4 separate regions of the Homo sapiens genome follow, and all the other regions are linked to region 1. Evidence: fine-mapped expression QTL. A gene starts in region 1. Each other region holds a variant in brackets. All regions are shown on one strand. Distances are between the middles of the regions. Region 1 holds the start of EAF2 (ELL associated factor 2). Region 2 overlaps GOLGB1 (golgin B1). Region 3 has its middle 44 kb from the start of ILDR1. Region 4 overlaps EAF2 (ELL associated factor 2).

What was found. PIP is the estimated chance that this variant, and not a neighbour inherited with it, causes the effect. A credible set is the group of variants that fine-mapping cannot tell apart.
Region 2: its variant is the best candidate, but not a certain one, in a credible set for the expression of EAF2 in fibroblasts (GTEx, PIP 0.58).
Region 3: its variant is the best candidate, but not a certain one, in a credible set for the expression of EAF2 in cerebellum (GTEx, PIP 0.53).
Region 4: its variant is the best candidate, but not a certain one, in a credible set for the expression of EAF2 in whole blood (INTERVAL, PIP 0.54).

What each region holds. Positions count from the first base shown.
Region 1 is chr3:121,830,457-121,838,568 of GRCh38, forward strand. It overlaps EAF2 (ELL associated factor 2), which reads left to right and starts at 4,753. Exons shown (of 6, transcript NM_018456.6): 1 at 4,753-4,935. The coding sequence starts at 4,830. IQCB1 (IQ motif containing B1) reads right to left here and starts at 4,604. Exons shown (of 15, transcript NM_001023570.4): 1 at 4,510-4,604; 2 at 3,935-4,023.
Region 2 is chr3:121,724,686-121,732,797 of GRCh38, forward strand. It overlaps GOLGB1 (golgin B1), which reads right to left. Exons shown (of 22, transcript NM_001366282.2): 2 at 6,191-6,288; 3 at 5,180-5,332; 4 at 4,503-4,655; 5 at 2,228-2,356. The coding sequence starts at 6,286. Among named protein-coding and RNA genes, the nearest start is that of GOLGB1, 21 kb to the right of the region's middle. RefSeq lists an enhancer at 6,276-7,475. The variant T/C (reference allele first, on the strand shown) is at 3,556.
Region 3 is chr3:121,974,139-121,982,250 of GRCh38, forward strand. No RefSeq gene overlaps it. Among named protein-coding and RNA genes, the nearest start is that of ILDR1, 44 kb to the right of the region's middle. The variant G/A (reference allele first, on the strand shown) is at 3,608.
Region 4 is chr3:121,854,934-121,863,045 of GRCh38, forward strand. It overlaps EAF2 (ELL associated factor 2), which reads left to right. Exons shown (of 6, transcript NM_018456.6): 4 at 2,078-2,223. Among named protein-coding and RNA genes, the nearest start is that of EAF2, 24 kb to the left of the region's middle. The variant G/A (reference allele first, on the strand shown) is at 4,967.

The DNA.
Region 1 (8,112 bases):
CGTATTTCCTTATTTATAGTAAAGCTAACATGTATCAACTGTTTAATATAAGCTAAGCACTATGTTAATATACTATACACTGTCTTGTGTAATCCTCACAACAGGGCTATGAAGTAGATAGAGCGTGTGATCATTTCCATACATACATATATACATATACATATATATGTTTTTGTCCACAGTTTCTGGCTCATAACTCCCATAGCCTTTGTTACAGTCTTGTTATGTTAGGGTGCTTTAGGCCTCAGAAAACAGAATCTATTTCTGACTTCCTCCTCTCCTCCTTTCACCTGCTCCTTCTCTCCAAAGCAGAACTCTAATCATCCCTGCCTTTCTCTGACCTATCTTGTCTAGCTGTAGGTCATAAGACCCCTGTTTCAGAATGGGTCTTGCCCTATATCCTGGAAGGAATGCTGAACAGAGAAGCCAAGAAGAATCTGAGCAGACAGGCCTTGCTGGGTTTCCCCACTCAGTCTGTTAGTATCAGATCATATCTTTTTTGTCCAATCACATTTCCAAAATGATTGTCCATGCTTCAGTCATGCCTATCCATTGAAATCTCCATAAAAGGCTCAAGAGGATGGGGTACAAAGAGCTACTGGATAGCTGAACATGTGGAAGTTCCTGGAGGAATTTCCTGGATATCACAGGCAGGGAGGACATGGAAGCTCTGTGCCCCTTCCCATACTTCACAGTATGCATCTCTTCATTTGTATCCTAGTATTTTTTTTTGGAGACAGGATCTCACTCCTGTTGCCCAGGCTGGAGGACAATGGTACAATTATGGCTCACTGCAGCCTAGACTTCTCAGGTTCAGGTGATTCTCCCACCTCAGCCTCCCAAGTAGCTGGGACTACACTTGCAAGCCATGACGCTCGGCTAATTTTTTGTATTTTTAGTAGAGACAGGGTTTCTCCATGTTGCCCAGGGTCTCTGTAATATCTTTATAATAAACTGGAAAACATGTTTCCCTCAGTTTTGTTAGCTCCTCTAGCAAATTAATACACCCCAAGGTGTGTATTAATAGGATTCCTCATGTGTAGCTGGTCAGTCAGAAGCACAGGTAAAACAACTTAGGGCTTGGATTGGCATCAGAAATGGGGGTCCCTCTTGCAGGACTAAGCCCTAAACCTAAGGGATCTGACCCTATCTCCAAGTAGACAGTGTCAGAATTGAATTAGATGATACCCAGCTGGTGTCCGCTGCAGAATTGATTGCTTGCTTGTTGGTGGAAGAAAACTCCACACATTTGGTCACAGAAGTCTTTTGTGTTGATTGTCATGATGTGAGAGCAAAAACTGTTTTTCCATTCATATATCTCTTATTAGGTACAATATAAATCATTAAAAGACAGGTTTGCTGAAAATACCTTAAAGAAAGCCCAGTGCAACTCCCGGCACATAGTAGTCACAAAACTTTCAAAGAGAGTGCATATAGTTATCTCATTCTCTCCAAATGGCTGCATTATGCTACATTTCCTTTTAAGAATGCAGCAAAATATATTTAAACATCACCTCTACTGGAGGTCACTCAAGCTGTATGCTATTACAAGCAACACTGCAATGAATATACACATGATCCTTTACATTTTTGCCAATCTGTTAGATGAAAATTGGTATGATTGTGTTTTAATTTGTATTTCTTTGATTATTAGGGATGTCAGGCACATTTCGTGTTCACTGGCCATTATTTCTTTTATGTATTTTCTATTCATATCCCTTGACTATATTTCTATCGGTTTGTCTTATTCTTTTGCAGAAGCTTTTCATACATGGATAGGAATCTTTTCTCTTTTATATTGGCTGTAAAATTTTCTCCTTGTCATTTATTTTTTTAAATTTGACTATGGGGTCTTTACCATAATTTTACAATTTTTTTTTTTTTTTTTGAGAGAGAGTCTGACTCTGTTTACCCTGGCTGCAGTGCAGTGGTGCAATCTCAGCTCACTGCATCCTCCACCTCCTGGGTTCAAGTGATTTCATGCCTCAGCCTCCCAAGTAGCTGGGATTACAGGCGTGTGCCAACGTGCCCAGCTAATTTTTGTATTTTTAGTAGAGATGGGGTTTCACCATGTTGGCCAGGCTGGTCTTGAACTCATGACCTCAAGTGGTCTGCCCACTTCGGCCTCCCAAAGTGCTGGGATTACAGGCATGAGCCACAGCGCCCAGCCATTTTTACAATTTTTACATATGAAATATAACAATCTTTTCCTCTATGGCATCTGTCTTTTGTGTCCTGTTTAGAAAGGTCCTCTCTAACCCAAGAGATAAAAAACATTCTCCAAATCTTCATGTTTTTTTGGTTTTGTTTTCCTTACATATCTTCTAAAGTAAGGTATTTTTGTGAATGGTGTCATATAAGAATCTAATTTTTAATGTTAAAGTTATTGATGGATTAAAAAATGCACACAGTAGTCATAAATTCATAAGGTAACTAGTTATGAATAGACATAACAGAAACAATCTGAAACGTCACATTTTCATGCACTATGTATACATACACATACACAGGGTATCTTTTTGGACTCTACTTAGTTTCTAGTAATTTAATCTGTTTGTCTATTCTTGAGCTAGTACAACATAGTTCATTTTAATATATGTTTGGAGAAAATTCACCTCAGAAGGTAAGCTTCATGAGGGCAACCTACCTATCCCTTAGAGATGATTAAATGAGTTAATACATGAAAGCAATTGGAACAATTCCTGGCACATAGTAAGAGCTCTCCAAATGGTTATTATTAAAGCCCAGTTCTACCATCATACTACATTTTAAGACCATCTTTGCTGGCTGCCTTCTTATATCTTTGGTTCACAACTGTATTCCCAGTGGCTAGACTAGTACCTGGCACGTACTAGGATTTGCTAAATACAGGTTGAAAGTATGAGTAAATGCACAAACCTCAGGCATTCTGAGCCTCAATTTCTTGACTTTCTGTTTTTCTCTTGTTACAATAGAGAAAGCTCAGATTTATAGTTGGAAGCCTCTCTAACGTAAAATAGGCTCAAAACAGTTTGTGCCCTCCTGGCTACCGTAATAAAACATCACTAAATCATTATTGTCATCAACAAATATGTGCAGAGCAGTATGGTAGATGCAGGGGATGCAAAGATTCTACACAAGACATACTCTCTGCTATTGTTCTGGTTGGGAAAGAAAAGTATGTTTATGTACATGTGTACACACACACAGATACAAAAAAATATACTTAAGAATATCAGATATATGTTAAATGCTAAATAGATGACACAGATAAGAATACAGGCCATAAAGTCAGAGGACTGGGCTTCTCTGAACCATTTTTCTTGCTGTAAACAAAATAGCAATTCCTACCTCCTAGAATGATTCTATTTAGAAGAGAAGGCAGCCACCAAGATGGTCTTAAAATGTAGTATAAGTGTAGAGCTGGGCCTTAAATAACCATTTGGAGACCTCTTATCATGCTCCAGGAATTGTTCTAATTGCTTTCATGTATTAACTCATTTAATCATTCCAACAACTCTAAGGAACAGATACTATTATTTTTTTCCCAATTTGAACAATGAGCATACTTAAACTCTGGAGAATGTAATTAGCTGGCACAAAGTCACACTGTTAAGTATAAAGCAGGGGTTCAAACTAGAGCCACCATCTGCCTTAAAGCATTTAACTACGATATGAAACAGCTTCGGCACACCTTCAAAGGGTAGGATTTACACAGACAGGTTGAAGGAGACATAACCACCTACCCCAAAATCAATTGACAAATGTGCCTAAGGCAGAAGGTGAGGGAGTGCAGTTGGATTGCGTAATTACCCTGAAAAACCACCTGTTATGGAAACCATCTGTAAACTTTCTCGAGTGTTTCTCCTATAATTCAACACTTCTCCCATCTTTACATTAAATTCATGAAATTTGACACAAAAAGACAATTATTTATCTATTTTAAGGCTACTACCCTGTTGCCAGGCCACCGGGTCCGGCCCAGCCTTGATTCTTCGGGAATCACTTCTCCCTCGCCGCGCCTGTTACTGCCTCCACGGATCACTGTGAGGAAAATAAATGAAAAGGAAATTCAGTGCGATCCTGTTGCGGCTGATCCTAAATGTCTGCAGTTGCTATCTCCGAATCCTCTTTCTCCTCCCCACTACACATCCCCTTCTCCAGTCCTAGGACCACAAGAAACTTCCTCTGGTACAAAAAGGTCAGAAAACGATTACTGAGGTAACAGCGTCGCTTCAAGTCTAAGGACCGAGATTCTGGGGCCTCTGGGCTCCTTTACTCCAGATTCTAGACCCGGCTTTCGCGCTACCAGGCCTTGGATAAGACACTAGGCCCTGTGCCTGGACACTGCACCTCCCCAGGCCTCAGTTTCCACACCAGATCTCTACAGAGTGGGCGTGAGGGCAGGCCGATTCTCCCGTTAAGAGCTCTTACAAGCCGGCTGACTTCGTCCAGGAGCCTGGGGTCCTGGCCTCCTGGTAGGCGCCCTGGGGCCCTCTCCCTCCCCAGCCACCACCTCAGATAAGTTACCTCATCCTCGCTTCGCGTTCTTCCACTAAAGAACCTGGGGCTCCCACGCCGCACTACAGCGCCGCGGCCTTCCGGGGCAGCGTGCGTCGCGACGCGGGAAGGGGCCTGGAGGCGGGACTAGGAGCCTCGGAGTCAAGGGGCGGAGCGCCCTTTGCTAATAAGCCAATCAGAACGTGAGACGCTCCGGTGGGGCGGTGCGCGTCGAGCGCGGGGTGGAGTCTGGGTGACTTGGCTGGCGGGATCAAGTGCAGCTGCTTCAGGCTGAGGTGGCAGATAGTGAGCGCTGGTGGCGGAGTTAAAGTCAAAGCAGGAGAGTAATTATGAATAGCGCAGCGGGATTCTCACACCTAGACCGTCGCGAGCGGGTTCTCAAGTTAGGGGAGAGTTTCGAGAAGCAGCCGCGCTGCGCCTTCCACACTGTGCGCTGTGAGTGAGGACCATCCGGGGATAGAGGGGGAGCCTCCCGGGATGGGGGTGAAGAGGCACAAACCCCTCTGGGTTTTGTTCCCACAGTACCCCTTACACTGTTGGAGACTACGGGGCGGGGAGGGGGGAGGCAGCGCGATCCTCTAACCTGCTCGGAGTCTTAGGGGGTCGGTGGAAGGAATCGGAGTAGAGCAAATGTGGGTAAACCCTGGACAGAGAGCGTTGAGACCAGCAGACAGGAAGGGAAAGTGTGAAAAAAGTCTGTAGAGGTGACTGTGGAGACAGACGTGACAGGTGGATGATGCAGGGGTGGACAGGAAAATAATAAGGTGACAAATGGGAAGGGACTAAGGACCGAATGCCGGGGAACTTGAATGCCTTGAGGCTGGTGGGGCAATATTCTCTCTTTTCATCACTTTTTCTCACCTCTGGCAGATGAGGGTTCTTATTTGGTGTGTTCTTTGCAAAGGGAGAAATTCTCAACCATCCCAATGATCTGTATATCTCTTTGGACCCCAGATTTCACTCAGTTATCAAATACTGATTATCAAAGTATTCGAGGGTGTGTTATTAATTTCTTTATTTGGAAGATGCTTACCTCCCTATGATTTCTACCCTTTGGTTTTCTTTATGTCCTCTGGAACTAGTTTTAATAAATTATTCTCTTTTATGTTGTTGGAGTAGAAAAAGGAGCTCTTTTGCTTTAGCAGTTGGATGATATAGATTCCAGGAAGGAAAATATAGCATATAAGTTTTTATGTGTAAGACATTCGTTTTTTGCATAACAACTGTCATAGAATTGTAGAGCGGGAAGGAAACTTCAAGATCACTGAATTATAACTTCTCATTTTTCTGTGGTAAAACTGTAAGTATTTTTTCACTTCCTTTCCCCAGCCTTGCCCTTCCTTAATATCTCATCATTCCGCCTTTCTCAGTCATTCTGTTCTCGGGTTGTTTAGAGACCTTTATGGTTTTTACTCTGAAATGTTCCATGGTTCAATCAAAACAACTAATTAAAGCATACATTCTCCCAAAAGTTTATTTAAGTTGTAGACAATTTAGTTATAGTTACTCAAAGTAAAGGTATGAAGAACCACTGGTTTTAACCCTGCAAGAATATATTTACTAAAAGGGTTTTTTTAAAGCAAAATTAACATCCAATTGGTAGAATAAATGGGTGAGATATTTGTGAACAGAAACTCTTCAACAGTGTCCCTTGTTTATTCTTCTTTATCATATACTTTCTCATCCAGAGCTCCCCACGATGAGATGGTGCTGTGCTGGCTCTGCAGTTTCTCTCTCTTCAGTCCCATTTTCCGGAAGTGTGATATGCGTCTTTATCTGGTTTTTCCATGCCTTTTTCTCAAATAGTATCTACTCTCTCCTTTTCTCTTCCTTCTCAGGTATGCAATAGTCTTAATATTAATTTTTCAAGTTACAAGGGCTTAAGATTATAAAAATTTGCTTAAGAATATATTTCTATATGATTTGGGTATATATTCTCTTATGTAGGGCACAAATCCCAATTTAAATGAATAAAAAATTGCCTTTGAAAATAATCTTGCAGGTCCTTCACAGCCTTTCATTTATAAAGGTTCTGAAAATGCCAGTATCTTGAAAGTCAGAGGATCAGATGATCCAGCTACCAGAATGAAAATAAACAAAAATAAGCAAAACAACAATAATGACAATAATAAATAAACAAACATACATGTTTGAATACACACTTAGTCCTGTGGAAGACAGAACTATTAGAAAAGTTTTCAGTCCTTATTTTCTTTTATTGTTGTTGTTGAAGCAGGTGTGGTAATGGCACAGAATCATTTTAGATTTATTTAAATAAAACTGTTTATTATTCTTGAGGACAGGTTCATTTCCAATGTAATCCTCACTCTTAAGAACTCAGAGTGAGGTTTGAAAATTGTAGAATAGTATGAAGCTGATGTTCATGCAGATAAGGGGGACCTAATTTATAACCAACCCTCAAGCCAATGTCATTGGAGAGAAAGTAATATTCTGCCTTTATTTACAGGAGCAATTCTGCCTGTCTGATATAAGACTTCAGGCAAACCCGGATGTGAATCCTGGTCTCCACCACCTATATATATAATGTGACTTTGGGAACATTCTCTAAGCTCTCAACCTCAGTTTTCTTATGGCTAAAAGATAATAGTAATATTTACATTTCATGGTTTGTGTAAGGATTAAATAAGATAGCATAAACAACCTGGAACAATATTTGCCACAGGGTAGAGAATAAATAGTAGTCACCATTAATGTTGAAGAGTTATATTCATATGTGTACGAGGGGTGCTAATGAATGTAATTTAGTCAGACTTTGAAACAGCATTTATCAGAGTTTAGCAATAAAAACTATCAAAAAGATAGTCTGGCATGTGGTAGGAAGGGCATGGGATGTTCTATCAACGATAAGCTGAATGCTTAGCAACAGGTGCTTTACCGGGTAGAAGAGTTTCAATAACAGGACCTACTAGAATCAATTTTGAATTGGGAGTAGTACTAGTTTTACTATTTATATCCAGATAAGGCAATGAATTGTGAAATCCTAAGTTTGTAAATGACACCACTTTTTTGTGTCCTTAAATGATGAGCTAATGAGCAGTGTGGGTTTTGGAGTTGGTTGAATTCATTCAAATCCCGGAAAATAAACTGATGATAATAATTGTGGATTCTTATGAAAATATTGGCATTATGTGATGTTACAGTTAAAATAATCAGAAAAGCGATAAACATTGGCAGAAAAGGTATTAAATACAAAGTAGAAAATGGTTTTCTACTCTTCATGCAATATAATAAGTAATTCCATTGTAAACCTGAAAAAATTGCATAGATGAAAGAAATCCAGAGAGAATAAATAAATGGTAAAGTTGGTGGTAGGGTTTCCAAACCAAGGAGAACTGAGAAATGAACTATTTAGTCTGGAATCATAGCAACTTGGAAGAGAATATGTTTGACATTTAGAAGCATACAGAAAGTATGAATATGAGATTAATCAGCAAATTCTTTAATTCTGGAACTCAACCACTTGAAACTCGGAAGTTATATACTTTTAAAAAAGTGTGTGAGGACAAAAGACAACACTGCTTGATATAATGGGTAATAAAGAGTAGAGTTTATTAATCCTAACAGTAGAATAATTAGAAATGTAAATAGATT
Region 2 (8,112 bases), 110 kb before region 1:
GAGCCAGTTTCTAACAGTTAAGACAATGGGAAAAAGCCCTAAAGGCATTTCAGAATGCATTTTAGAAATCTTTAAGGCTGCCCCAACAGCCCCCATCACAGGCCCAAAGCCCTAAGAGGACAGAATGGTTTCTGTGAATAGGCCCTGAGATACCACTGCTCTGTGCCACTTCAGGATACTGCTCCTTGCAGCCCAGCTGTTCTGGTTAGTGCAAAGCAGCCGCAGGTATGGCTCATGTCACAGCTCAAAAGGTACGAGTTGTAAAACTTGGTAACATCCACATGGTGCTAATTCTGCAGGCTCACAGAAAGCAAGAGCTGTGGAGGCTTGGTAGTCTCCACTTACATGTCGAAGGATGTCATCAATAGCCAGGGGGCTCAGGCAGAGGCTTGTCTTGAGGCAGAACCACCACAGAGAGCCCCACTAGAGCAATGCCAAGGGGAAATGAGGGGTTGGAATTGCCCTGCAGAGTCCCCACTAGAGTAATGCCTAGTGGAATCACGGTGTGGGACTACCACTGCCATACCAGAACTATAGAGCTACCAGTGTGCAATGCAAAGTCAGCCTGGGAATGCTGGCTGGACTAAGCCCAGCAAAGCCATAGGGACAGAACTGCCTGAGGTCTTGGGGACCCAACCCCTGTACCGGCAGAGGATGCTGAAAATGGAGTAAAAGAAGATTATTCTGGAATTTTAAGGCCCAATGTCTACTCTCTTGGTTTTCAAACTTGCTTGGGGTCTGTTACTCTCTTTCTTCTTGCCTAGTTCTCCCTTTTAGAATGAGAATGTGAACCCTATGCTTGTCCTACCATTGTATCTTGGAGGAAGATAATGTGTTTTTATTTCACAGGCTCACAGAAATTGGTGCAGGAATGAGCTAAGACTTTGGGGCTGTGGGGATGCAATTAATGTATTTGTATGTGAGAAGAATATGAGTTTTGGAGAGCCAAGGGTGGAAGGCTATGATGTGAATGTCCCCTCCAAAACTCACGTTGAAACTGAATCCCCAGTGTGACAAGAGGCCTTTAAGAAAGGACTGGTTCAGGAGGTCTCTGAACTCAGCAATGGATTAACACATTCACAGATTAATGGATTAATGGGTTGTCATAGAAGGGGAACTGGTAGCTTTATAAGAAGAAGAGAGACCTGAGCTGGCAAATTAGCACACTCAGCCCCCTCACTATGTGATGACTTGCGCTGCCTTGCGACACCACTGAGAGCCCTATCAGCAAGAAGACCCTCACCAGATGCAGTCCCTCAACTTTAGACTTCTCAGCCTCCATAAATGTAAGAAATAAATTTATTTAAATTAAATTAAATTTCTGTTATTATAAATTAAAAACAAAACTAAGGAGCAGAATGATATGATTATAGGTGATAAAAGCATACCAGAGCCACACTAAAAAAAAAAAAATCAAAATTGCAATCTATTTCAAAAAGTTTTTAAAAATTAAGAAAATTATACAGGCCAGGCATGGTGGCTCACACCTGTAATACCAGCACTTTGGGAGGCCCAGGCAGGTGGATCACTTGAGGTCAGGAGTTCCAGACCAGCCTAGCTAACATGGTGAAACCCCATTTCTACTAAAAATACAAAAAATTAGCCAGGCATGGTGGTGCATGCCTGTAATCCCAGCTACTCAGGAGGCTGAGGCAGGAGAATTGCTTGAACCTGGCAAGCAGAGGTTACAGAGAGCTGAGACTGTACTGCTCCACTCCAGCCTGGCCAACAGAGTGACACCCTGTCTCAAAAAAAAAAAAAAAAAAAAAGAAAAGAAAAGAAAAAAAAATTATACAGAGATGAGAGAAAAACATAAATCAGATTTAGAAAAATCAGAAATGAGGTGACTGAACTCATGAAAAATCCAATAGAAAAGAAAAAATCATTGCAGTATAGAAGATAAAAAAACAGAAAAAACACAAAAACAAACAAAAAATAGAAGGCCTAAAGTGAAATAAAACAACAAACAAAAAAACAAACTTAAAATATGTGAAACCATATATTGAAAGAGTATACTGGGTATCTATGAATAACAACTAAAAATGACAAACACCAATGCATATTCTAATAAAATTACCAGACAAGAAGAAATGAAGAAAAGAAGGAGACTGATATATACATAGATAAATGCCCATTGTGCATCTAGAAAAATGTATTTGTCACATAATAATCCATTGGTTTTAGTGATTCATTAACCTAATGATTATGAAGTAACTTCCACCCCTACCTGTGCAGGTTGTTCTGCCTGTGCCTGAGTAAGCTGGGCTTGCAAAGTGCTGATTAGTTCCTCCTTCTCCTGGAGCTTATGTTTTATCTTTTCTATTTCCATCTCTTCCTCTGTAGAACTCTTGTCATGCTGAAAATGCAGGAGATAAAGTCATTATTTAAAAGAATTACAATTAATATATATTTGATATTTTCTTCTAATTTTTCATTTACAACCATTTAGTTATAATTTTATTAAACTGATGGGAGCAAGAAAAACCAGCTGATCTAACAAATAAGAAATCTTAGGGTTGTCCAGTTTTTGTATGGCCAAGCAGTTCCTGTTAGACCTACCCTCCCTCACATAATAGCTATAAACTGTGAAATACATACACACACACACATATATATATATATATATATATATATATTTTTTTTTTTTTTTTTTTTTTTTTTTTCCCTCACACCAAGCATGTGAACCCAAAACTGTGGACAATATAGAAAACAGCTATCTGAAAATACTGGAGAGCAACCAAAAGCAGGAAGATACTGGAGGGGATGTGATAATTGGAAGAAATGGTACCGAGTTTCCCATTTTGACAGCTTTTATTCTGAGGGCAAAACCAGTCAGTGCCATGCAGGACTAAACCTTAATAGAAAACCCGAAGTCTTGTTGCCTTGAAGAATCAAGGAGAGAGCTCAGGAAACTATAGCTGTTGCTAAGTGAGAAGCAACACATCAGAAAAGAGCCAGTGAGGGGAAATCCAATTTTTTCAATAATCTATTTTTTTTTCCAAAAGCTCTCCCTTAGACTGAGATTCTGCCTCTTTGTAAATTTAGTCCCTCCCAACCCCCTAAACAAAGCTATTTCTGCTTACTGGAATTACAAAGAATACTTTTATACTTTCACATAAGTCAGTCAAGCACCTGAGGACTGTTGTCATTTCTTCAACTATACTTTCCACAGAATACCTAGCTCTGTATTGAGTATATAATAGTTAAAGGGTTGCTATGACTGATTGCTGAAACTTAGAAATCATTTCTTTAACAGAGAAAGAAAATGAACTCTAAGACATTACTGCTTTAAGGTCTCAGAGCTAAAAATGAAATTAAAAAGCAGAGTATAAAATGGATAATTTAAAAATCTGACATCATAGCTGAGGAGAAGCTGGAGGGAACAAAGCAATATGAGGAGAGAGGTTGGTGCTACCACAGTGAGGGGAAGAGAACTGACAGAGGAAAAACCAAAAGGAAAAGAAGGATCAAGGTGAAATTATTTGAGAAGATTGAGAAAAGCTTTTAAAATAGGCTTCAAGAAGTTAAATAAGATTATCAATTCAGGGAAAGTAA[T/C]GTTCTCTGATCATTAGGCCCTGAGAGGAAAGACTAAGCAGGAACTGGGTCACTAACTAGCGATCCCAAAGGTTGTGCCTAGAAAACTGATTAAAATCTCATTTCCCAAGAACTAAGGATACTAGCAGGTCAAAGCAAAACAAAATGAAACTAAAAAAATAAAAAGATTTCTTACACACGGTGAAGTCTAGGCTCACTCTATAACTACAGTATGCATGTGATATGCCTGCCTCCATATAATCTGTATCAAACTCTCCACAAAACTGAAGTTTCTTGTTCTCTAAATAGCTGACTGAATGTGAATATGTGGAGTTTAACCATACAGGAAAGATAATGAAAATTTGAGTACTGGGACAATATTCCTCACAGGGCAGTACTTTCCTTATTCCTCCTCTGTATCTCCAACCTTAAACTGCTTTGTTGGCTGCAGTCATAAACCTAGTGAGCCTCCCTTTTAGAGAGTCCCAGGTAATTCAGCTGATTCAGCCCACATGCATGAAGCTTTAATCCACCACTATGTGACTATATATGAGGACACAGAATATTCTGTGTTAAGTCATTGAATTAAAAAGTTTCAGAGCTGGAAGAAACCTTAGAGATAATCTAGTTTAATCTTCTAATCAATGATGAAACTCCTCCAAAAGGTATGTTTCCCTCCTCTCTAAATGCCTCACTTCAGTACTTATTTCTTCCTGTAAGCCTTTTTTAATCCCTGAAAGTCCAGGTCACAACTGGCATTTCATATCCATGTTTTCTGTACATCTTTCATTCTCCCTGTGTGTGGCCTACAGTCCAGCTGAACTACAAGCTCTATAAGAAAAAAAAAAACAAAACATTATTTAGTGCTGTATCATTTTAGCATCCTAAATGTTTGTGATTGGTGAAGATCTGCTGTATTGGTAGGTTTTTTCAACTTAGGAAATATACACTACACCCAGTCACCATACCTTGGAAAGTTGCTCCTCTGACTGAGGTTCTGTAGGCAGAACAGTCCCTCCTTGTGCTTTCATTTCTTCTATGTATTTATTCAAAGAAGTTAATTTGGCCTTCGCATGAAGTTTTAGTTTTTTAATTTTGTTATCAGCAGCTTTTCTCTCTTCCTGCCCAAAAACAATGATGGTAAATACATAAATGTTTATTCCCCTCTTATCTAGCACATACTAAAAGTTATTTTTATTATTATTACTTTCAGAGACAGGGTATCTCTCTGTTACCAGGGCTGGAGTGCAGTGGCACAATCACAACTCACTGCAGCCTCTAACTCCCAGGCTCAAGCGATCCTATCTCAGCCTCCAGAGTAGCTGGGACTACAGGTGCCCAATACCATGCCCAGCTAATTTTTTTTAAATTTTTTTTTGTGGAGACAGGGTCTCACTATGTTGCCCAGGCTGATCTCGAACTCCTGGCCTCAAGAAATCCTCCCATCTCAGCCTCCCAAAATGCTGGGATTACAGGTGTGAGCTACCACACCGACCCAAAAGTTATTTTCAGTAGGCATAAGGTTACAGTACTAGGGAGATAATCAGATTCCCTAATAATCTAAGTGGAGACAAAAATTAAAGTGAGTAGTGTATCATCTGTCCTTTATCAAATGCTCCACAAGAAAGGATAAAAACAATAGTACCTGTAGAGCTTCATCTTTCTGCTGCAGTTGAACATCCTTCTGTCTAATAATATCTTTTAGCTCCACCACCAATTGCTCTGCATAAGCCAGGCGCTCCTGAACATCTTCTTGTGTAGTATTATTAAATTCCATGTCAGATTCTTGGTGTAATTCCTAATATTTAGGAAAAAAGTTGCCAGTGCACCAGGAAAAGGTATTAGCTTCCCAACAGGAGTTTCTTCATTCCAACTTTTTATGTTTTGCCCAATTCATATTCTTGTTAACTTAAGAATCTAACTCTGATCCAATAATAATCATTATCATAGCCATTACAATATATTAAGTATTTTATAAATGTTAAGCATTTTACAAACATTATCCCATTTAAGGTATTATTATCCTAATTTTACCAAAGAGAAAAATAAAGGAAAGCAAAAATCATAAACCAGTAAGGGTAAAAGGCCAAAAGTTAAAATTAAGAGTAGTTAAGTAAAACTCTCTTAACCACTACGCATTACTTCTTGTCTTTTCAGAAAACTAAGAAGTTTTATTAATTCCTTATGTGGACTTCAGAAAATATAATACATACTGCCAATTTGTATCATCTTAAAAAAAAAAGAAAATACAATACAAACTATAGGAGAAGTGGTAAATGAAATTACAAAGCAAACAGATATTCTGAAACCCAAAAGGTGTTCCAGTTTCCTCATTTGTCACTTAGACCTTTCCTGTGGAAAAGGAATAGCCAAGGATGAGAACAAAGGACTTAAAACACTCTGGCACCAAACAAGGCCCAGGGAGACAAATGAGAAAGCCCTTTCAAATTGTATCCAGGACTTGTTTCCCATCACTGTGGCTTTTAAGCTAAAAACTTACAAGAGAAGGATCACTTATAAAATTTCAATATTTTTCTTAATCCTCGCTTCACCTAGTACCAGGGAGGCTTCGCACACCCTTCTATCTTAAATTATTTTCCTTAGAAGAACACAGAACATATGTCTTACCAGTTTAAATCAGAACAGAACTACTCACAGGGTCTAGGGGAGCCCTCATATTCTGATCAGTGTCATCATCTCCTGATAATTCATGCAAAACAACATTTGCTAATCCTGATAATCGGCTCAGCATTTCTGTAGGAAAAGAAGGGGGGAAAAAACCTAAGAATCAGCAAAATGAACATAGGCTTCTCCTATATTGATAACCATATCATCCGTGAATGAAAAAAGAATACTGTACAGGTGATTTGTATTAGACACAGTCTGCAGCACAATGATGTCTTCAAAAAGGCATTTGAGTACTTCCAGTGTAGTCACACGCTGTTCTTTTCAGTGGCAATTGTACAGAGGTTATCACCATCACTAACACCATTTCTAAAATAAAATGTAAGTACCTAATCGTTAAACATTAATACAATGTTAAATACCAATCTATAATTGTTAAATACACCTTAAAGGTAGTTTTTATCTTTAATGCCCTTCTTTCATAGTAGTTTCACTTACAAACATGAATTTCTTTTTTCTTTTTCTTTTTTTTTTTTTGAGACAGGGTCTTGCTCTGTCACGCAGGCTGGAGTACAGGGACGCAATCTCAGCCCACTGCAACCTCTGCTTTCTGGGCTCAAGCGATCCTGCCACCTCAGCCTTTCGAGTAGCTGAGACTACAGGCACATGCCCAAACATGAATGTCTTATTCTTTCTTCCTCTGTCAGACTGTTATTCTCTCCCACTTGTTCAAATAAACTCCATGATACTGCAACATTTTTCTTTTTATGTGCCCCATGAACCCCATTCTTTCAGAAAGCTTTCTTGATAAACCATGTGGCTTTGCTAAAATTTAAATATAAACTTTGTTCAAAATGTACAGCATTAAATGCATATATTAGAAAAGGAGGAAGGACAGAAATCAGTAACCTATGATTCTTCTATAGAAAATTAGAAAAAGAAGAACAAATTACAGCCAGTGTAAGCAGAAAAATAAAAATAAAAATCAGAGTAGAAATTAATAAAAATAGAAAAATAGAGAATATCAATAAAACCAAAAGTTGATTATCTGAAAAGATCAATAAAATTGATAAAACTCTAGTCAAGATGACCAAGAAAAAAACAGAGAAGACACAAATTACTGGCATCATAAATGAAAGAGGAAACATCATTAATGATCTAACATACATTAAAAGATAATAAACACTACAAATAGCCCTATACTTTTAAGTTCATCCATGTAGATAAAATGGGTCAGTTCACTGAAAGATTCAAGCTACCAAAAGCTCAAGAAGAAATAGAGAACCTGAATATAAATGAGTAGATATGTGTGGGTGCATGTGTGTGTACAGACACACACACACATATATATACACACATATAAATATGAAATTGAATTCATACATTAAAAACCTTCTAAAAAAAGAAAACTCCAGATCAAGGTGGCTTCATTAGTAGGTAACAAGAAACATTTAAGGAATAATACCAATTTTATATAATCTATGCCAGAAGATAGAAAAGGAAGGAACACCTTCTAACTTATTTTACCAGACTAGCATTGCCCTAATACTAAAAGCAGACAAAGATATTACAAGAAAACTAAAGACCAATGTTCCTCATGGTCACAGTCAACAAAATATTCAAATAGTCCATAAAATATTAGCTAATTAAATCCAGTAATATATAAAAAGATAATACATCACAACCAAGTGGGGTTCAAGAAATGTAATGCTAATTCAAAATATGAAAATCAATGTAATTCACCATATTAACAGACTAAATAAGGAAAACCACATAATGTCAATAGATTGAGAAAAAGCATTTGACACATTTCAATATCTATTCATGATTATGAATTCACAATAAGAATAATTCATTCTCAGCAAACTAAGAAGTGAATTTCCTCAACCTAATAAAGGGCATCTTTAAAAAACTTACAGCCAACATCATAATTAATGGTGAGAAACTGAATGT
Region 3 (8,112 bases), 140 kb after region 1:
AATGTCTAACACACACAGTTGGAAGAGTTCTCTCTTTTTTTTTTTGTTTTTTGTTTTTTGGTGGTAGACTGAAAATTATATTTACTTTGGCCTATGTTGAGTTGAGACTTCAAAAATCCCTCGTAGAGAAAGAAAGATTTAGGGAGATAAGAATTGTCAACCTTAAATAACTAGATTCAGAAAATATGATTAAGTAGAGAGTTTATTTGGGCCTAAAGCTTGTGGATGGCCACCAGGGAGCATAGATTCAAGTTGCCCTGAATATACACTCTGATTCACAGCAGTTACAAGTAGGTTTTTAAGGAAAAAAGAAGAGGCAGTTCCTGAGTTCTTTACAAACAATTTACCTTAAAACAATGCAAGCTATTAATTGGCTGTACACTGTTCTTTGTATCACAAATTCCAGGAACCTGAAGATAATGAGTGAGGCAGCTATCAGGAACAAAATGTCTTTAAGTAATTGCCTTTGGACATGGGTAAGGGGTATGACTAAAGTCCCATACCAGTGTTTCTCTGGGCCTGCTAAATCTTGCCATTGCCCTGAGCTATTTTTCTTTTATCAGAATGTTAAAGTGAATTTGTTTTGTGTTACTCACTCAGCCATTCCATCCCTGAAGACATACCTGTCATAATGTAATCACCCAATGGGTTCTTCTTGCCCACTGAACAGATAAAAATCAACCCACTGAGACCTCAACATTGCAGGACAGAAAGAGTTTAATTGATGTGAGTCTGGCTGACTCAGGAGAACAAATTTATCACTCAAATCAGTCTCCCCAAAGACTTGGAGGTTAGGGATTTTATGGACAATTTGGTGGGCGGGGGCTAGGGAATGGGTGCTGCTGATTGGTTGAGGATGAAATCATAGGGGTGTGGAAAACAATCTTCACATGCTGAGTCCACCTCTGTTTGGGGCAATAGGATTCGCTGAGTCATAAGTCATGAGTCCAGGTGGTATCAGTCTGAAAAGCATCTTAAAAAAACAATCTTAGGTTGTACAATAGTGATATTACTTATAGGAACAGTTAGAAAAGTCACAAGTCTTGTGACTTCTGGCTACATGACCCCTGAGCAGTAAGGAATTACAGAAACTATGCCTATCTTTTCAGAATTCAGGCCCCTTTCACAATCCCAACCTTCTGGACTTTCATTACTTTTATAAAGGCAGTTTAGTTTTGGAAAGGACTATTATAATCTTTGTTTTGGGTAAAACTATAAATCATTTCCAAAGTTAGCTTGGCCTATGCCCAGCAATGACCAAGGACAGCTTGGAGATCAGAAGCAAGATGGAGTCAACTATGTCAAATTTCTCTTACTGTCATGATTTTGCAAAGGCAGTTTCAATAAGAGCATAGAGAAAAGCATAAATGAAGGTAGTACCAACATATTTGAAAAGCACCATTGTGGCTGATTTCTGTATGCCAGAGATGAAGTTGGAAAATACCAATATTGAAATAGTCTCTATGATTTCAATAAGAATGATGACATCTCAGGGTGGCAGAGACTAATGAATTACACCAATATACCAGAAACAATTTGGCCTGCTTATTTTAATAGGAGAAAGGCTGGTAGGGTAATTATAATGATTTGACCCACAGGAATCTTTGTCATTGAATAATTGATCATAGAGCCCTGCATGCGGAAATTGGAAGGGAGTCATGTTTACCTGGGTAAAGAATGTTTTCTCTGCAATAAAAGTCATTTGGTGAGTATTTACATAGGACACAAATATTCTCACACTCTGAGTTTACTTTAAGAGATCCCTTCACATACCTCTTTCTTCAGGCCAACTTGTTATACATCCTTATATCTTACTCCTTGTGTATCTCTGACCTGCCAATCATTAGCCCCAATCCCTGCATTACTGTAGATCTGTTTCTTGGGTCATCTCTCTTTTAGGCAAAATGGGCAGTGAGATAGCCTGCTTAAAATTCTGCCCATTGGAAGGAATTCCACCCCTTGGTGGGGCTGCTGCACTGCAGAAGTTTATCTCCAGTTTTCATGGAGAACCATTTATAAACTAGCTTCACATGTTTTTCTTTTTCAATCAACTGATCATAGAGAACACTCCATGTAGCTCAGGTATAGATGAGAGTAAGATGGCAGTGTGATGGCAGTAGGCACACCAGGAATGATAGCCACCTGTTCATCCAATTTACTCTTGACTTTAGGACCTGCTTAAGGTCAATATACCACATGCTGGAGGAGTGTTGCTGCCATGCCGGACTCTATGGTGATAGATAAGACACCAAATTCATGTGGGGAACTGACTTGACTGTCCTCCTGTCCTACAGTCAAGTAGGTGTTTGGTCTCTACTATGACCCAATAGCAAGCCAAATGCTATCTCTCAAAATGAGGGCAATTAATTTTCAAATCAGGCACGATTTTGCTCCAAAATGCTATGGGCCTCTCCTCTAATTCTCTTATCAGGGTTTCCACAGAATCCCCCAGCATCTTGATTAGCCATACATATTTTGAAAACCACTGGAATCACTGGTCATAAGTAGGGTGACCATATAATATAATTGATCACTCCAACTAGAACAATTTTGAGAGTGAAAGGAGGCACTAGTAATAAACATGTTGGGAAAATGTACGGTCATCCAGTCATAAAAGCCAAGTGATTTATTTGTTCACTCTGCATCCTTTACCAGCTAGAGTACATATTCAAAGATGAATATAGAAAATTTTGATAAAGAGCTCTCAATTATATCCTGGATTAGGTTATTGAATTTCAAGGCAAAACTTCTTCAAGCACTCAGGCAGAAAAGGTAAATATTTAATTAGTTATCACACTTTAGTGTGCATGAGAAGTACCTGGATGTATTGTTAAAACAGGCTACTCAACTTTATACTCAGAATTTCTAATTCTGTAGCCATAAAATGGGCCTGAGAATTTGCATTTTAACAAATTCTTAGGTGATATTGATGTTGCTAATCCAGGGGTCATATTTTTAAGAACCATTGATCTACAGAAGAAGAAGAAGAAAAAAAAACATAAGACTGTCCTCAGTTTTTTTCCACAGCAACATGTCATACTTTTAAGAACCATTGATCTACAGAAGAGAAGAAGAAAAAAATAGACTGTCCTCAGTTTTTTCCACAGCAACATGTAATACCAAATGATAATATTCTAAATAGAAACTTATACTGAGATGTAGTTGAAGTTTTAGGTCCACCAACAGCTTTTATAAACATGAACAGACTCTAGGAACATTGCCTTCTAGAGAACCTTTTGCAAAAGCCATAAGATGATAGTCACACTTTTTTTTTTCTGATAATAGGATCTAGGGGTTACAGTATATTTATGACCTGGCTGTCTAAAGAAAGGTTGTGATATGGTTTGGCTTTGTCCCTGCCCAGATCTCCCATCTTGAATTCCCACCTGTTGTGGCAGGGACCCAATTGGAGGTGATCGAATCATGGGGGCAGGTCTTTCCTGTGCTGTTCTCATGATAGTGAATGAGTCTCATGAGATCTGATGGTTTTAAAAAGGGGCGTTCCCCTGCACAGCTCTCTCTTTGCCTGCTGCCATTTACATAAGATGTGACCTGCTCCTCCTTGCTTTCTGCCATGATTGTGAGGCTGCCCCAGCCATGTGGAACC[G/A]TAAGTCCAATTAAACCTCTTTCTTTTGTAAATTGCCCAGTCTTGGGTATGTATTTATCGGCAGCATGAAAACGGACTAATACAGTAAATTGGTACCAGTAGAGTTGCTGAAAAGATATCCAAAAGTGTGGAAGTAACTTTTGAACTGGGTAACAGGCAGAGGTTGGAACAGTTTGGAGAGCTCAGAAGAAGACAGGAAAATGTGGGAAAATTTGGAGCTTCCTAGAGACTTGTTGAATGGCTTTAAGAAAAATACCTATAATGATATGAACAATAAGGTCCAGGCTGAGGTGGTCTAGATAGAGATAAGGAATTTGTTGGGAACTGGAGCAAAGGTGACTCTTGTTATGTTTTAGCACAGAGACTGGCGGCATTTTGCCACTGCCCTAAAGATTTGTGGAACTTTCAACTTGAGAGAGATGATTTAGGGTATCTGGAAGAAGAAATTTCTAAGCAGCAAAGAATTCAAGAGGTGACTTGGGTGCTGTTAAAGGCATTCAGTTTTATAAGGGAAGCAGAGCATAAAAGTTTGGAAAATTCGCAGCCTGACTATGCAATAGAAAATTTTTAAAAAACCAATTTCTGGGGAGAAATTCAAGCCGGTTGCAGAAATTTGCATAAGTAGCAAGGAGCCTAATGTTAATCCCCAAGACTATGGGGAAAATCTCTCCTGGCCATGTCAGAGACCTTCATGGCAGCCCCTCCCATCACAGACATGGAGGCCCAGGAGGAAAAAGTGGTTTTGTGGGCCGGGGCCCAGGGTCCCCATGCTGTGTGCAGTCTAAGGACTTGGTGGCCTGTGTCCCAGCTGCTCCAGCTGTGGTTGAAAGGGGCCAACTTAGAGCTCAGGCCATGGCTTCAGAGGGTGCAAGCCCAAGCCTTGACAGCTTCCATGTGGTATTGGGCATGTGGGTGCACAGAAGTCAAGAATTGAGGTTTGGGAACCTCTGCCTAGGTTTCAGAAGATGTATGGAAATGTCTGGATGCCCAGGCAAAAGTTTGCTGCAGGGGCAAGGCCCTCATGCAGAACCTCTGCTAGGGCAGTGCAAAAGGGAAATGTGGGGTTGGAGCCCCCACAAAGAGTCCCTACTGAGGCACTGCCTAGTGGAGCTGTGAGAAGAGGGCCACTGTCCTCTAGACCCCAGAATGGTAGATCCACTGACAGCTTGCACCATGCACCTGGAAAAGCCACAGGCACTCAATGCCAGCCCATGAAATCAGCTAGGAGGGGGGCTGTATCCTGCAAAGCCACAGGGGTGGAGCTGCCCAAGACCATGGGAACCCATCTCTTGCATCAGTGTGACCTGGATGCAAGACGTGGAGTTAAAGGAGATCATTTTAGAACTTTAAGATTTGACTGCTCGGCTGGATTTCAGACTTGCATGGGGCCTGTACTCCTTTGTTTTAGCCAATTTCTCCCATTTGGAATGGCTGTATTTACCTAATGCCTGTATCTCCATTGTATCTAGGAAGTAACTAACTTGCTTTTGATTTTACAGGCTCATAGGTGAAGGGACCTGCCTTGTCTAGATGGGACTTTAAACTTGGACTTCTGGGTTAATGCTGAAATGAGCTGAGATTTTGGGGGACTGATGGGAAGGCATGACTGATTTTGAAATGTGAGGACATGAGATTTCAGAAGGGCCAGGGGCAGAATGATACAGTTTGGCTGTGGCCCCGCCCAAATCTCTGTCTTGAATTCCCACATGTTTTGAGAAGGACCAGGTGGGAGGTGATTGAATCATGGGGGCAGGTCTTTCCTGTGCTGTTCTCATGATAGTGAATGAGTTGCACGAAATGTGATGGTTTTAAAATGGGTGTTCCCCTGCACTGCTCTCTTTGCCTGCTGCCATCCACATAAGATGTGACCTGCTCCTCCTTGCTTTCTGCCATGATTGTGAGGCTTCCCCAGCCATGTGGAACTGTAAGTCCAATTAAACCTCTTTCTTTTGTAAATTGCCCAGTCTCAGGTATATCTTTATCAGCAGCATGAAAACAGACTTATACAGATTATATTTACTAACCTCAGGTTCAGATGAGGTTTCCAGTAATATAAAACTTGACAATGCTCTATCTTTACCTACTACTATATTTCTCTGCCTACTTTCCTTTCATTCAAGCTAAAGAAATTAAGGCTCTGGTGCTGTTAAACTGTCTGACTCATCTGAAATGTAAGCCTTTATATTTGTCAAAAATTGTGAAATATGTTTGAGATGATTAAAATAAATCTGAAGGCTTGGCTAGTTCATGTATGTATGTATCTGAACTTCAAGTGAACTCTATGAACACTGTCCTCTATAAAAACTCCCACAAAAAAGTGCAGCTTTTTTTTCTGCAGAATCCTAAAAGATCAGAATAGCTTTGATTTTTAAGATGACCATCAGAATTCTTTGTTCCCCTTCTGTGGAAGTTGGAAAATAACTTTGAATAAAAATTATCTTTTTTGGGTTTTCTAAAATAAACATAACTAGTTTTGTTTACTGTAACAACAAAACTAAGTTGAGAGATGCAGAGGTGTAATATTAGAGGAAGTGTGAGAGTGCCAGTATTTTCATTTTCAATACCAGGAAGTCCATTTGAAACCTGAGGGTTTAAAGTACAATGATTCTAACTTCATCATGTTTTCCTTTGTCTTCTTTCATAATCTAGGAGGGTTCCTTAAGAAATAAAATCTCTTGAAATGAAAGATTTAAAGTTTAACAATTCCTCTAGTTTCCCTTCAATTTACTTTTCTTCTGTTAAAATCCAGCAAAACAGGTTTTATTTTTTATTTTTCTTAGACAAGGTCTCAATCTGTTGCCCAGGCTGGAGTGCAGTGACACGGTCATAGCTCACTGCAGCCTTGACCTCCTAGGCTCAAGCGATCCTCCCACCTCAGCCTCCCAAGTAGCTGGGAGTACAAGCACATGCCACCGTGATTGGCTAATTTTTAAAAATTTTTATTGTTAGTAGATACGAGGTCTTGCTATGTTGCTGAGGCTAGTCTGTAATTCCTGAGCTCAAGTAATCCCCCGACCTCTGGCCCCCAAAGTGCTGGGATTACAGGTGTGAGCCACTACAGCCAGCAAAAGTTTTTTGGTTTTTTTTTGACTAAAATTAGTAGCATTCATATGAACACATTTTAAAAGGTTATCTATTGCTCTCATTCTGTATAAGCAGAGAAAAAAATACTTGGAATGATGTTCATTTACTATGCTTAAAATTTTCATTGAGGTGTAATATACAAATCAGAAAATTCACTTCTTATGATTGTACAAGTTAACAATTTTTAGTAAATTTACAAGGTTGTTTGATCATAATAACAACCAATTTTAGAACATTTCTATCACTCTGAAAATAACCCTCATGTTCACTTACCATCTCTATTCCCACTCCAGTGCTGGGCAACCACTAATTTACTTTCTGTCTCTGTAGATTTGCCTTTTCTGGACATTTCGTACAAATAGAATCACCTCATATGTGGTTTTTGTATCTGGCTTCTTTTCTTTAGTATAATGTTTTTGAACTCATCCGTGTTGCAGCAAGTCAGTAATTTATTCCCTTTTATTACGGAAGTCCATGGATATGCCTACCACATCATGGAGTGAATTGTGTCCCTGTCCCCCAAATTCATATGTTGAAGCACTAACCCCTCAGTACCTCAGAATGTAACTATATTTGGAAATAAGTCTTTTAAGGAGGGCATTAAGTTAAAATGAGGATATTTAGGGTATGTCCTACTCCAATCTGACTGGTGTCCTAGAAAGAAAAGATCAGGACATATGAGAGAGAAAGTGAGAAGGCTACCATCTGCAAGCCAAGGAAAAGAGGCCTCAGGAGAAACCAAATCTGCAGGCACCTTAATCTTGGACTTCCAGTCTCCAGAACTGTGAGAAGTAAATTTCTGTTAAGCCACCCAGTCTGTGATATTTTGTTATGGCAACCCTAGCCGACTAACTCACCATTCTGGTGGCTATGAAGTGGTATCTCACTGTGGTTTTAATTTGCATTTCCCTAAGATGTATATCATCTTTTCATGTGCTTGTTGGAAATTTTTATATCTTCTTTGATGAAGTCTCTATTTAAACGTTGCCCATTTAAAACAAGTTGGGTTTGTCTTATTATTGAGTTGTAAGCCCTCCTGATATATTCTGGTTAGAAGTACTTTATCAGAAATATGATTTGCAAATATGTTCTCTAAGGTTGTAGTTTGTATTTTGTTTTCTTAATGGTGTTCTTTTGAAATAAAAAAGTTTTACATTTTGATGAAATTCAATTTATACATTTTTTCTTTTAAGGATTATGCTATTGGTGTCATATCTAAGGACTCTGCCTTACCTAAGGACAAAAAAGATTTTTCTATACTTTTTGGGGTTTAGCTCTTACATTTAGGTCTATTGTCCATTTGAAGTTAATTTTTGTATAAGGTGTAAGAGTCTAAATCCATCTTTTTGCATATGACTAAACAAGTGGTCCATCACCATTTATAGAAAATACTATCCTTCCCTCATTGAATTGCCTTAGCA
Region 4 (8,112 bases), 24 kb after region 1:
AAAAATGTTTTAATCTTTTTCTAAGTTTAAATTTGGTGGAGATCCTAAGCAAAAAGCGTTTTACCACATTACCCTGTGATATATAAAAGCTTGTTTTGCTTCTAAATGCTTTCTATAGGTATAGGTACACTTTTTATCCTATTGTAGATACTTCTGTATAACTGGATTGAAGGAAGCCATTATACATTCTCTAAAATAATTTCATCTTCATTAGTAAAAATTTATTGAGTACCTAGGATGTGTAAGGTACTAGAAAAAGGAAAGTTTGCTCTGCAAACACCTCAAAACTTCTGCATTTTATTCAGATAAACAGACTATTCCATTTAAAAAGTCAATAGGAGAATATACCCATCTCAAATCCTTTTTGGAAATAGGTAACACATTACTTACCCTGTAATATAAGGATGTTTGCTCTAAAAGCCATGCAAATAGTATAGACAAAAATTGCTCTAGGAATTAAGAAAAAGGAGAAGTAATGGTAGATTGGAAAATTCAGGGAGGCCTTTTTGATGTACCTTAAGAGGAGGTTAGGATCATAAGAATTACCTTGGGTGCTTGTTAAAAATTAGTTCCCGAATCCAACCTTAAATCAGGGAAGGATCCTGGGAAACTCTATTTTTTAATATCCCCTCACCCCTACCATCCATGCCCTGCTGTGATTCACACCAGAAGAAAGTTTGTGCAATACCGATTTAATTGATTAGAGAGGAGATGAGAATGTAAGACAAGTTTGATATCTGATTTATTCAGGGCCAATGAGTAAGACCTACTTGAACGGAGCAGAGGTTTGTCTCTGTACCTGTGTATACGTTTTGGAAAGTAGGGGGCGATGTTGATATTGGGCTAGAGGTAAGGTTGTAATTTTGTTGGTTGAGGTTAGTGCCATCAATATTAACTAAGAAATTAGGACATTATCTTGCTGGTAGTCGTTACATATTAAAGTCTTTTTAACCAGGGATTGGCATGTTTACAGTTTTGTTTTAAAACATTAATTCAGTAGAGAAACTGAGTAAATGAAACAATGTAGGAATCAGAAAAATGTATAAACCAGGATTTTTGAGGGCAGGAATGAAGAGAAAGTGAGGTTCTAAAGACTTTTTGAAGGAAGAACTGACAGGATTTGGTGACTGGAAATGGGAGAGGCAAAAATCAAGCATACTTTTATTATACTACACTCTTCTTAAAGATATTGAAAGAAAAGTATATGAATCTCCTTTATTATCATGCCTGTCTTAAGTTATGAATGGAAACTTTAGAAGTGATTTAGTTTTAACAGAAATGATAATCTTAGAACTTACGGAATATATCGTACCTGTTATACACTTATATTTTTCCTTTTATTTTAGTCATTTGTGAATATCTTATCTGTTCAATTTAAGCAATGGCTTTTTTTTTTTTTTGGTTGTTGTTTTATTTATTTTTAAATAGAGATGGAGGGTCTCGTTATATTGCCCAGGCTGGTCTTGAACTCCTGGCCTCAAACCATCTTCCTTCCTCAGCCTCCGAAAGTGCTGGGATTATAGGCATGAGCCACTGCACCAGCCTGGATTTTTGTTTTTGTTTTATGAGACAGGGTCTCACTCTGTCACCCAGGCTGGAGTGCAGTGGCGCAATCATAGCTTACTGCAGCTTCTAACTCCTGGGCTCAAATGATCCTCCCACAGCCTCCTAAATAGCTGAGATTACAGGTGTGCATCATCATGCCCAGCTAATATTTTTATTATTTTTATACAGACAGGGTCTCGTTATGTTGACAAGGCTGGTCTTGAATTCCTGGCCTCAAGTAATCCTCCCACTTCAGCCTCCCAATATGCTGGGATTACAGGCATGAGGCGCCAAGCCTGGCACTGGTTTTGTTTTTGTTCTTGTTTGTATCCCTCAATGGACATGTGTATCACAGAAATAGAACTTGATAAATACTTGTTAAATAATGAACTAAATTAATGTTTTAATTATGGAATATTATTCTAAAGATGTTTAGGAAAAGAATAAGTGGTCAGTTTTAGTAACTTTGTAAGTTAAATTTTTGTTACATTGCTGTCATACCTGTTTCAATATTTGATATTCTTAATTGCAGAGTTGAAGGAAGCAGTAAAATTCAGTATCGTAAAGAACAACAGCAACAACAAATGTGGAATTCAGCCAGGACTCCCAATCTTGTAAAACATTCTCCATCTGAAGATAAGATGTCCCCAGCATCTCCAATAGATGATATCGAAAGAGGTAAAATCTAAGTATATGTAACATCCCTTTATAAGAGATAATTAAGAAATGTTAAGGCCAGGCATGGTGGCTCACACCTGTAATCCCAGCACTTTAGGAGGCCGAGGCAGGCGGATCATGAGGTCAGTAGTTCAACACCAGCCTGGCCAACATGGTGAAACCGCATCTCTGCTAAAAATACAAAAATTAGCTGGGCATGATGGCATGTGCCTGTGGTCCCACCTACTCGGGAGGCTGAGGTAGAAGAATCACTTGAACCCAGGAGGCAGAGGTTGCAGTGAGCTGAGATTGCGCCACTGCACTCCAGCCTGGGTGACGGTGAGACTCCATCTCAAAAAAAAAAAAAAGAAAAAAAAATGCTAAATGAATTTTTTCATTTTAATTAACAGTGGTACTAATTATAAATGTTTACCAAGAGCATAATATTTTTTGTAATTACGCATTTTTCTGGGTAATGATGTAGCTTATGATTTTTAGTTTTATGTAAGCAATATCCATATAAGAGAATTTGTATCATTTTATTTATTTTATTATACTTTAAGTTCTAGGGTACATGTACACAACGTGCAGGTTTGTTACATATGTATACATGTGGCATGTTGGTGTGCTGCACCCATTAACTCATCATTTACATTAGGTATATCTCCGAATGCTATCCCTCCCCTCTCCCCCAACCCCATGACAGGCCCCGGTGTGTGATGGACACCCTGTGTCCAAGTGTTCTCATTGTTCAATTCCCACCTATGAGTGAGAACATGTGGTGTTTGGTTTTCTGTCCTTGCAGTAGTTTGCTCAGAATGATGGTTTCCAGCTTCATCCATGTCCCTACAAAGGACGTGAACACATCCTTTTTTATGGCTGCATAGTATTCCATGGTGTATATGTGCCACATTTTCTTAATCCAGTCTATCATTGTTGGACATTTGGGTTGGTTCCAAGTCTTTGCTATTGTGAATAGTGCCACAATAAACATACGTGTGCATGTGTCTTTATAGCAGCATGATTTATAATCCTTCGGGTATATACCCAGTAATGGGATGGCTGGGTCAAATGGTATTTCTAGTTCTAGATCCTTGAGGAATCGCCACACAGTCTTCCGCAATGGTTGAACTAATTTACAGTCCCATCAACAGTGTAAAAGTGTTCCTATTTCTCCACATCTCTCTAGCACCTGTTGTTTCCTGCCTTTTTAATGATCGCCATTCTAACTGGTGTGAGATGGTATCTCATTGTGGTTTTGATTTGCATTTCTCTGATGACCAGTGATGATGAGCATTTTTTCATGTGTCTGTTGGCTGCATAAATGTCTTCTTTTGAGAAGTGTCTGTTCATATCCTTTGCCCACTTTTTGATGGAGTCGTTTGTTTTTTTCTTGTAAATTTGTGTAAGTTCTTCATAGATTCTGGATATTAGCCCTTTGTAAAATGGGTAAATTGCAAAAATTTTCTCCCATTCTGTAGGTTGCCTGTTCACTCTGATGGTAGTTTCTTTTGCTGTGCAGAAGCTCTTTAGTTCAATCATATCCCATTTGTCTATTTTGGCTTCTGTTGCCATTGCTTTTGATGTTTTAGTCATGAAGTCCTTGCCCATGCCTATGTCCTGAATGGTATTGCCTAGGTTTTCTTCTAGCGTTTTTATGGTTTTAGGTCTAACATTTAAGTCTTTAATCCATCTTGAATTAATTTTTATATAAGGTGTAAGGAAAGTATCCAGTTTCAGCTTTCTACATACGGCTAGCCAGTTTTCCCAGCACCATATATTAAACAGGGAATCCTTTCCCCGTTGCTTGTTTTTGTCAGGTTTGTCAAAGATCAGATGATTGTAGATGTGTGGTGTGATTTCTGAAGCCTCTGTTATGTTCCATTGGTCTATATATGTGTTTTGGTACCAGTACTATGGTGTTTTGATTACTGTAGCCTTGCAGTATAGTTTCAAGTCAGGTAGCGTGATGCCTCCGGCTTTGTTCTTTTGGCTTAGGATTGTCTTGGCAATGCGGGCTGTTTTTTGTGTCTGTATGACTTTAAAGTAGTTTTTTTCCAATTCTCTGAAGAAAGCCATTGATAGCTTGATGGAGATGGCATTGAATCTATAAATTACCTTGGACAGTATGGCCATTTTCACGATATTGACTCTTCCTATCCATGAGCATGGAATGTTCTTCCATTTGTTTGTGTCCTCTTTTATTTTTTTGAGCAGTGGTTTGTATTTCTGCTTGAAGAGGTCCTTCACATCCCTTGTAAGTTGGATTCCTAGGTATTTTATTCTCTTTGAAGCAATTGTGAATGGGAGTTCACTCATGATTTGGCTCTCTGTTTGTTTGTTATTGGTGTATAGGAATGCTTGTGATTTTTGCACATTGATTTTGTATCCTGAGACTTTGCTGAAGTTGCTTATCAGCTTAAGGAGATTTGGGGCTGAGACAATGGGGTTTTCTAAATATACAATCATGTCATCTGCAAACAGGGACAATTTGACTTCCTCTTTTCCCAATTGAATACCCTTTGTTTCTTTCTCCTGCCTGATTGCCCTGGCCAGAGCTCCCCAACACTATGTTGAATAGGAGTGGTGAAAGAGGGCATCCCTGTCTTGTGCCAGTTTTCAAAGGGAATGCTTCCAGTTTTTGCCCATTCAGTATGATATTGGCTGTGGGTTTGTCATAAATAGCTCTTATTATTTTGAGATACGTTCCATCAATACCTAGTTTATTGAGAGTTTTTAGCATGAAGGGCTGTTGATTTTTGTC[G/A]AAGGCCTTTTCTGCATCTATTGAGATAATTGTGTGGTTTTTGTCATTCGTTCTGTTTATGTGATGGATTATGTTTATTGATTGGCATATGTTGAACCAGCCTTGTATCCCAAGGATGAAGCCGACTTGATCATGGTGGATAAGCTTTTTGATGTGCTGCTGGATTCAATTTGCCAGTATTTTATTGAGGATTTTCACATCGGTGTTCACCAGGGATACTGGTCTAAAATTCTCTTTCTTTGTTGTCTCTGCCAGGCTTTCATATCAGGATGATGCTGGCCTCATCAAATGAGTTAGGCAGGATTCCCTCTTTTTCTATCGATTGGAATAGTTTCAGAAGGAATGATACCAGCCCCTCTTTCTACCTCTGGTAGAATTCAGCTGTGAATCCGTCTGGTCCTGGCCTTTTTTTGATTGGTAGGCTATTAATTATTGCCTCAATTTCAGAGCCTGTATTGGTCTATTCAGGGATTCAATTTCTTCCTTGTTTATTCTTGGGAGGGTGTATGTGTCCAGGAATTTATCCATTTCTTCTCGATTTTCTAGTTTATTTGCATAGAGGTGTTTATAGTATTCTCTGATGGTAGTTTGTATTTCTGTGGGATCAGTGGTGCTATCCCGTTTATCATTTGTTATTGTATCTATTTGATTCTTCTCTCTTTTTTTCTTTATTAGTCTTGCTAGTGGTCTATCAATTTTGTTGATCTTTTCAAAAAACCAGCTCCTAGATTCATTGATTTTTTTGAAGGGTTTTTTGTGTCTCTATCTCCTTCAGTTCTCCTCTGATCTTAGTTATTTCTTGCCTTCTGCTAGCTTTTGAATTTGTTTGCTCTTGCTTCTTTAGTTCTTTGACTGGTGATGTTACGGTGTCGATTTTAGATCTTTCCTGCTTTCTCTTGTGGGCATTTAGTGCTGTAAATTTCCCTCTACACACTGCTTTAAATGTGTCCCAGAGATTCTGGTATGTTGTGTCTTTGTTCTCATTGGTTTCAAAGGACATCTTTATTTCTGCCTTCATTTTGTTATTTACCCAGTAGTCATTCAGGAGCAGGTTGTTCAGTTTCCATGTAGTTGTGCGTTTTGAGTGAGTTTCTTAGTCCTGAGTTCTAATTTGATTGCACTGTGTTCTGAGAGACAGTTTGTTGTGATTTCTATTCTTTTATATTTGCTGAGGAGTGCTTTACTTCTAACTATGTGGTCAATTTTGGAATAAGTGTGATGTGGTTCTGAGAAGGATGTATATTCTGTTGATTTGGGGTGGAGAGTTCTGTAGATGTTTATTAGGTCCACTTGGTGCAGAGCTGAGTTCATGTCCTGTATATCCTTGTTAACCTTCTGTCTCATTGATCTGTCTAATATTGACAGTGGGGTGTTAAAGTCTCCCATTATTATTGTTTGGGAGTCTAAGTCTCTTTGTATGTCTCTAAGGACTTGCTTTATGAATCTGGGTACTCCTGTACTGGGTGCATATATATTTAGGATAGTTAGGTCTTCTTGCTGAATTGATCCCTTTCCATTATGTAATGGCCTTCCTTGTCTCTTTTGATCTTTGTTGGTTTAAAGTCTGTTTTGTCAGGGACTAGGATTGCAACCCCTGCTTTTTTTTTGTTTTCCATTTGCGTGGTAGATCTTCCTCCATCCCTTTATTTTGAGCCTATGTGTGTCTCTGCATGTGAGATGTGTCTCCTGAATACAGTGCACTGATGGGTCTTGACTCTTTATCCAATTTGCCAGTCTGTGTCTTTTAATTGGAGCATTTAGCTTATTTACATTTAAGGTTAATATTGTTATGTGTTAATTTGATCCTGTCATTATGATGTTAGCTGGTTATTTTGCTCGTTAGTTTATGTAGTTTCTTCCTAGCATCAATGGTCTTTACAATTTGGCATGTTTTTGTAGTGGCTGGTACCGGCTGTTCCTTTCCATGTTTAGTGCTTCCTTCAGGAGCTCTTGTAAGGCAGGCCTGGTGGTGACAAAATCTCTCAGCATTTGCTTGTCTGTAAAGGATTTTATTTCTCCTTCACTTATGAAGCTTAGTGTGGCTGGATATGAAATTCTGTGTTGCAAATTATTTTCTTTAAGAATGTTGAATATTGGCCCCCATGCTCTTCTGGCTTGTAGAGTTTCTGCCGAGAGATCTGCTGTTAGTCTGATGGGCTTCGCTTTGTGGGTAACCCGACCTTTCTCTCTGGCTTCCTTTAACATTTTTTCCTTCATTTCAACATTGGTGAATCTGACAATTATGTGTCTTGGAGTTGCTCTTCTCCAGGAGTATCTTTGTGGTATTCTCTGTATTTCCTGAATTTGAATGTTGGCCTGCCTTGCTAGGTTGGGGAAGTTCTCCTGGATAATATCCTGAAGAGTGTTTTCCAACTTGTTTCCATTCTCTCTGTCACTTTCAGATACACCAATCAAACGTAGATTTGGTCTTTTCACATTGTCCCGTATTCCTGGAGGCTTTGTTCATTTCTTTTTACTCTTTTTACTCTAAACTTCTCTTCTCACTTCATTTCATTCATTTGATCTTCAATCACTGAAACCCTTTCTTCCACTTGATCTAATTGGCTACTGAAGCTTGTGGAAGCATCACGTAGTTCTCGTGCCACGGTTTTCAGCTCCATCAGGTCATTTAAGGTCTTCTCTATGCTGTTTATTCTAGTTAGCCATTTGTTTAATCTTTTTTCAAGGTTTTTAGCTTCTTTGCGATGGGTTCGAACATCCTCCTTTAGCTTGGAGAAGTTTGTTATCACCAATTGTCTGAAGCCTTCTTCTCTCTATTCGTCAAAGTCGTTCTCTGTCCAGCTTTATTCCATTGCTGGCGAGGAGCTGCATTCCTTTGGAGGAGAAGAGGCACTCTGATTTTTGGAATTTTCAGCTTTTCTGCTCTGGTTTCTCCCCATCTTTTATCCCAAAAGGTAGATAAAGGTTTTATCTACCTTTGGTCTTTGATAATGGTGACGTACAGATGGGGTTTTGGTGTGGATGTCCTTTCTGTTTGTTAGTTTTCCTTCTAACAGTCAGGACCCTCAGCTGCAGTCTGTTGGAGTTTGCTGGAGGTGCACTCCAGACCCTGTTTTCCTGGGTATCACCAGCGGAGGCTGCAGAGTAGCAAATATTGCAGAAGGGCAAATGTTGCTGCCTGGTCC